Linked DNA regions of Homo sapiens. The protein of the gene in region 2 interacts with the protein of the main gene of each other region in a pairwise test. Each region holds a gene or a part of one and is shown on either strand. Other genes may lie near its edges.

The links.
Region 1: the proteins of PLEKHA3 (region 2) and MRPL45 interact in a two-hybrid assay, tested with the Homo sapiens proteins (one large-scale study listed by BioGRID).

The regions. Positions count from the first base shown.
Region 1 is NC_000017.11:38,314,168-38,317,667, reverse strand, and holds part of MRPL45 (large ribosomal subunit protein mL45), read right to left. Parts: intron 1-3,500.
Region 2 is NC_000002.12:178,493,957-178,497,456, forward strand, and holds part of PLEKHA3 (pleckstrin homology domain-containing family A member 3), read left to right. Parts: coding exon 1-33; intron 34-1,539; coding exon 1,540-1,704; intron 1,705-3,500. UniProt on the Homo sapiens protein: Plays a role in regulation of vesicular cargo transport from the trans-Golgi network (TGN) to the plasma membrane.

The sequences.
Region 1 (3,500 bases), on a different chromosome or scaffold from region 2:
CCCGGGAGGCGGAGGTTGCGGTGAGCTGAGATCACGCCACTGCACTCTAGCCTGAGTGACAGAGCGAGATTCCGTCTCAAAAAAAAACAAAACAAAACAAAAAAAACACAAAACAGACAACAAACCCTAGCTCCTATAGATACAAGATTTTAGGAGGGTTCCTAGCTGATGAGTCTCAAACCTAAGGCCATAGATTAGCTTCTTTCAGATACACACGACTTTTCCCCAGTTTACTATGAGCAGTTTAACTCTTTGTCCCCTTTGAAAAATCTTGCTCTCTAAGCCCAGAATGGGTAAGGGATTAGTTCTAACATGTCTATCTGCTTCCCTTTCATCTCTATTCCTAATAGGAAAGATTCCAAGTCATTTCCTCTACTGTAGGAACAGACTGAGCTGTGGTGACAACTACCATGATGACCATCACTGGCACCTCTGAGTGAACTCTTCCTCCCCACTATCCTGGCATAGAAGTCTTCAGTGGAAATAAACTCCATTTTCCATGAGTTCACTTACTATTTTGCAATAATGTAATACTACTTCTACTATAAACATTTAGAAATGGTGGATTTATGGGCCGGGTGCGGTGGCTCATGCCTGTAATCCCAGCACTTTGGGAGGCCAAGGTGGGCAGATCACGAGGTCAGGAGATCAAGACCATCCTGGCCAACATGGTGAAACCCTGTCCCTACTAAAAATACAAAAATTAGCCAGGTACAGTGGCACACACCTGGAGTCTCAGCTATTCAGGAGGCTGAGGCAGGAGAATCGCTTGAACCTGGGAGGTGGAGGTTGCAGTGAGCCAAGATCGCGCCACTGCACTCCAGCCTGGCAACAGAGCAAGACTCCGTCTCAAAAAAAAAGGAAATGTTGGATAAAATGTAAAACAGACAAATACACTTTTGCTTTTTTTTTTTTTTTTTTTTTTTTTTTGGATTGCACCACTGCCCTCCAGCCTGGGCTACAGAGTGAGATTCTGGGACTACAGGTGCACGCCACCACACCCAGCTTTTTTTGTATTTTTAGTAGAGTTGGGGTTTCACCATGTTGGCCAGGCTGGTCTCGAACTCCTGGACTCAAGTGATCTGCCCGCCTCGGCCTCCCAAAGTACTGGATTATAGGCATGAGCCACCACACCTGACCAAAAAATAATTTGACAGAAACCACCCCTAAGGAAACCCAGACATTGTAATTATTAGTAAAGACACAAATCAATTGTCCTAAATATGTCCAATGAGCTAAAGGAAACCATGGACAAAGAAGTAATGAAATCAGAAAAACAATGTGTGAACACATTGGAGACAGAAATTATACAAGGGAACCAAACAGAAATTCTGGAGCTAAAAAGTACAATAAATTTTAAAATTCACTAGAGGGGTTCAACAGCAGGTTTGAGCAGGCAAAGTATCAGTGAACTTGAGGATAAGGTAATTAAAATTACATAGTCTAAAATGCAAAGAGAAAAAATAATGGAAAAAAAATGAACAAAACCTTGAGGGACCTGTGGGACATCATCAAGTATACCAAATACACATCATAGGAGTCCCAGAAAAAGAAGAAAGAAATGGATAGAAAAAAAATTTGAAGAAATAATGCGGCCAGGCACAATGGCTCATACCTGTAATCCCAGCACTTTGGGAGGCCAAGGTGGGTGGATCACCTGAGGTCAGGAGTTCGAGACCAGCCTGGTCAACAGGGTGAAACCCTATCTTTACTAAAAAATACAAAAATTAGCCAGGTGTGGGTGGCAAGTGCCTGTAATCCCAGCTACTTGGGAGACTGAGGCAGGAGAATCACTTGAACCTGGGAGGCGGAGGCTGCAATGAGCCGAGATCGGGCCACTGCACTCCAGCCTGGGAAACAAGAGTAAAGCTCCATCTCAAAAAATAAAATAAAATAAAAATAACATGCAAAAAAAAAAAAAGAAAGAAAAAGAAATAATGGCTGCAGACATCCCAAATCTGATGAAAGACATTCATATGTACATCCAGGAAGCTCAAAAACCTCCTAGCAAGATAAACTGAAAGAAATTCATACCAAGAAACATTAAAACCAAAGTGTCAAAACCCAAACACAAAGAATGAATCTTGAAAGTGGCAATAGGCTGGGCACAGCAGCTCATGCCTATAATCCCAACACATTGGGAGGCAGAGGCAAGAGGATCACTTGAGGCCAGGAGTTCGAGACCAGCCTGGGCAACAAAGCGAGACCCCTGTCTCTACAAAAAAATTAGAAAAAAAAAAAAAAAATTAGCCAGGTGCTGTGGCACACACCTGTAGTCCCAGCTACTCAGGGGCTGAGGTGGGAAGATCGCTTGAGCCCAGCAGGTTGAGGCTGCAGTGCAGCTATCATTGCACCACTGTGCTCACTCCAGCCTGGCTGAAAAAGTGAGACCCTGACTTTAAAATAAAAAAGAAACAAACAAAGGCTAAAGGGGATCCTTCAGGCTAAAATGAAAGGACACCAGAAAGTAACTCAAAACCACAAGAAAAAAACAAAAAACATGTATGTTTTACTACTATGTAGGAAAAGTAACTACATAGATAAATATAAAAGCCTGTATTACTGTACTTTTGGTTTATAATTCCTCATTTTTCATCCTGTATGATTTAAAAGGCAAATGCATAAAACAATAATTATGAATTGATGTAATGGGCACCCAAGGTATAAAACTGTAATCTGTGATAATGAAGCAGGAGAGACATAATGAAGTGGGAGGGAGAGACATATAGGAGCAGAGCGTTTGTATATTATTGAAACTAAGTTGATATTATTCAAACTAGGTTGAACTAGCCACCACGCCTGGCTGTGTTTCTCTATTTCTGCAAAAACCACTGTTGAGGACAGGCGGTGGCCCATGCCTGTAATCCCAACGCTTTGGGAGGTCAAGGCGGGTGGATCATCTGAGGTCAGGAGTTTGAGACCGGCCTGGCCACTTAATGGGAAAGCACAGTCTCTTCAATAAATGGTGCTAGAAAAATGAATATTCTCATGCAAAAAAAAGCAAAAACATCACATAGTTTTCACTATATACAAAAACTAACTCAAAATGGAGCAAAGACCTAAATGTGAGAGCTAAAACTATAAAAATCTTAGAGAAAAAGGAAGGGGAAATACTTCATGACACTGGATTTGGCAATGATTTCTTGAATATGACACCAAAAGAAAAAACTCGATATGGTAACAAAAGAAAAAAACTTGAAAAACTGGATTTCATCAAAATTTAAAACTTTTTTGCATCAAAGGATACTATCAAGAGTGAAAAGACGGCAGGCGCAGTGGCTCACGCCTGTAATCCCAGCACTTTGGGAGGCCGAGGCAGGTGGATCACCCGAGGTCGGGAATTCAAGACCAGCCTGTCCAACATGGTGAAACCCTGTCTCTACTAAAAATACAAAATTAGCCAGGCATGGTGGCGCATGCCTGTAATCTGAGCTACTCAGGAGGCTGAGGCAGGAGAATTGCTTGAACCCAGGAGGCAGAGGTTGCGGTGAGCCGAGATC
Region 2 (3,500 bases):
CATGATGAGAATCATTCATCTCCTAGTGCAGAGGTAGAGCGAAGAGGATCTCTTCACGTGTGGTTATGCTTTGGAGTACTCTGGGGGGATCCTCAGTCATTCCATAAGATGACAGGCATTTTCACATTGAGTTATTTTCAGCTTTTCTGGGTTCTGCCTACTGTATACTATCTGGAAATCTGTAGCATCTTCTCGATTGTGTCTGTGTGGCCAGAGAAGAACATGAAGTAGCATATTTCTCCAGGGGTCAAGGCTTGTCTTTGCAGCCAGTCTGATAATTTGGAGGTTGGAGTGGGGAAGAAGCATTCCAGGCTTTGTTCTCCAGGCTAGCGGCATAAATTCACTGGACAGCTGCTATTCTCTTTTTTTGGTAATAAGGTCCCTGCTTCAACTATGAGAGTTGATAACTTATCTTTATGAAATAACTTAAAACAAATCCTTCTCAGAACAGTGACTTAGGAATCAAAACTCAGATTAGTAGGATCGGGCTATAATAGGCTCATTCTTCATGGTAAAATAGGACCAGTGAGCTATACCACTCTCTGGGTGAAAGGCCAGCATGTTGCCTGTCCCTTTTTGCCTAACTTGGTAGAAGTGGGGCAAGAAATCTTCCTATTTCTTCTGTGGCCTTCTCCTGTTGGGGAGGAATCTTGTGTAAGAAGCCCAAGGACAAACTGACCACAAGCTCCCTGGAGGTAGTTGACCTCACACTTGCTACAGCAGCTCAGTGACAGTATTAGGGACCCAGGCTTGTTCCATCCTTCCACTCTGCCATTCTTGGTGTGTTGAGTTTTTCTCCTAATGCCCCAGGTGTCAAGATGACTGTCAAGCTCACAAAGAGGCAGGAGGCAGTGGGGTTGCCAGGGTAGAGAGAGTCCTTCTCAACTTGCTGTGCTTGGTTTTGAATCGGGAAACAAAAATCCCAGAAATTCCCTAGCCAACTTCTCATCTTTTTTTTTTTTTTTTTTTTCCGGCTCAAAGGAAACTAGGAAAAAATGAGCATTTAGTAAAGAGTGTTGGAATAGCCATGACTAGGTTAGATCAGTCTCTATTCATCCCCCAGGATCAGGGCACTTTGCGATCCTGAACAAAATTGGGCTTTTTACTCTATCAAGGAAGAAGTGGGAGAATGGATAGAGGGTAGGCATGAATTGTACTGCCACTAATTAACTCTAAGGGTATTCCATGTCTGTGTCCACTTTTGGGAAAGTGAAAATTACTGTTTAGGTTAGATTTCTCTAAGATAAACTTTTGTACACAGTTTTTCAATATGATAATTAAATGCAAAGCTTATTTTTTCTTAGAATCTAGTTTCATACATTGTTTAGGAGACAGGCATTTCTTATACATAGATGTTTTAATGTTTTCTTTTTTCTTTTTTTGCCCCAGCTTAATTTTCTAAGGTACTGTATTTTAAATAAATTTGAACATAACATAGTAATGTGTCTGTTGGAGATGTCTTATTATTTAATGATAAGGTTGTATATGATTCCATGTAGTTGTATGCAAATCTGTTCAAGTCTTTGTGTAATTTTTCAGAACATGAATGAAGCCTCTTCTCTGCTTAGTGCCACGTGTAACACATTCATCACAACGCTTGAGGAATGTGTGAAGATAGCCAATGCCAAGTTTAAACCTGAGATGTTTCAACTGCACCATCCGGATCCCTTAGTTTCTCCTGTGTCACCTTCTCCTGTTCAAATGGTTTGAACTTCTTGTTTTGGTTTTTTCCCTCAGTAGTAATGTTGCATGTGGTTTTCGTTTCATTTTGGTATTTATTTTTAAGGGTGGAAGCAGGCAGTTGGGGGGCGGGGAACAGCTAACAAGTTGAATTTTTTTGTTTGTACTGTTTCATATTCGAGCTTCTTAGCTGATGAGCTGAGCACTTGTGCTAGTGTCCTCATTCCCTTCTCCTTGGAGGGGCTGTGCATGGCCTGCCCACAGGCTGCTTCATCCATTTTCCCCAGTGTCTAGGAAAATATTACAAAGTGCTGTGACAAAGAAAAAGTTGGGGAGCTCTATTCTGCTTGGTAAGAATTACACAATGGAATGAGATTTTAGTCACAATGGGGTACAATTACGTATATCTTTAAAGGAGTTAGAAGGAATTTGAAACATATTCCGGTGGGAACGGTATTCTCTACTAAGCATTTGGATCTGAACCCTCAGAGTAGCTGATCTTCAGTTTCTTCATGTGTAAAAATACAGTGTATATCAGAGAGTCACTGCAAACGATCTGACCTGCTTACTGTTAGGTGCTCAGTGTTAGTTTCTTACTTCCTTATTGCTCAGAACAAGTCCTCTTTTTGCCAGGGGTGGCAGATTCGTTGTCCTTTCTGAGCTAATAAATTTGCTCTAGCATGCTGTTAGAAATTTGTAGGTGAGATAAGCTTTAATGAGACTTCAAGTTTATTGCATCAAAGTGTTTTTAGGAGTCCATTTATAGGAGTAAGAATGCCACCTTGTTGCTGTTTCAGCAATTACCTGAAGATCTATTTGTTAGGAGAATAGGGTCTAACTTCTTCCTAGGTTCTCTTACCTATCCCAGCAAATTTAGTTATGAGATTTAGTAAAGATTATTGCCTAGATTTATTTAGAGAATTGTTTTCTAATCAGTATTTGATGGGCTAATAGTTTCCTCTGAGGCAAGCGTACCATGAAAATGAGTTTTATGGCCAGATTAATTTGGGAATTGCTAGGTTAACTTAAATGATATGAATTGGGTTTGATGGGACTTGTCACAGCCTTTTTACTTATTTATTTATTTATTTTTTTAGAGACAGGGTCTCACTCTGTTACCCAGGCTGGAGTGCAGTGACACCATCATAACTCACTGCAGCCTCAAACTCCCAAGTTCCAGCCTCCTGAGTAGCTGGGACTACAGGTGCACACCACGGTGCCTGGCTATGTTTTTTAATTTATTATTTGTAGAGATGGGGGGGGTCTCATTTTGTTGCCCAAGCTGGTCTCAAACTCCTGGCTTCAAGCTAAGTTTTTAAATTTATTTTTTGTAGAGATGGAGTCTCATTTTGTTGCCCAGGCTGGTCTCAAACTCCTAGCTTCAAGCAGTCCTCCTGCTTCAGCCTCCCAAAGTGTTGGGATTACAGGCATAAGCCACCATGCCCAGCCGTCACACCCTCTTTTATGCTGAAGTGTATTATGAATCTCTGAGAGGTGGAAGTGTAGTGTACAGTGTTGCTGAAATTTATTTGACAATTGAGCCCGTTATATATATACACAAATAAAATAAATATATATATAAATACTATATATGTATATATTTTCTTTTTTTGAAATGGAGTCTTGCTCTGTCGCCCAGGCTGGAGTGCAGTGGCGCAATCTCAGCTCACTGCAAGCTCCGCCTCCTGGGTTCATGCCATTCTCCTGCCTCAGCCTCCTGAGCAGATGGGACCACAGGCGCCTGCCACCATGCCCAGCTAATTTTTTGTATTTTTAGTAGAGACGGGGTTTCACCATGTTAGCCAGGATGGTCTCGATCT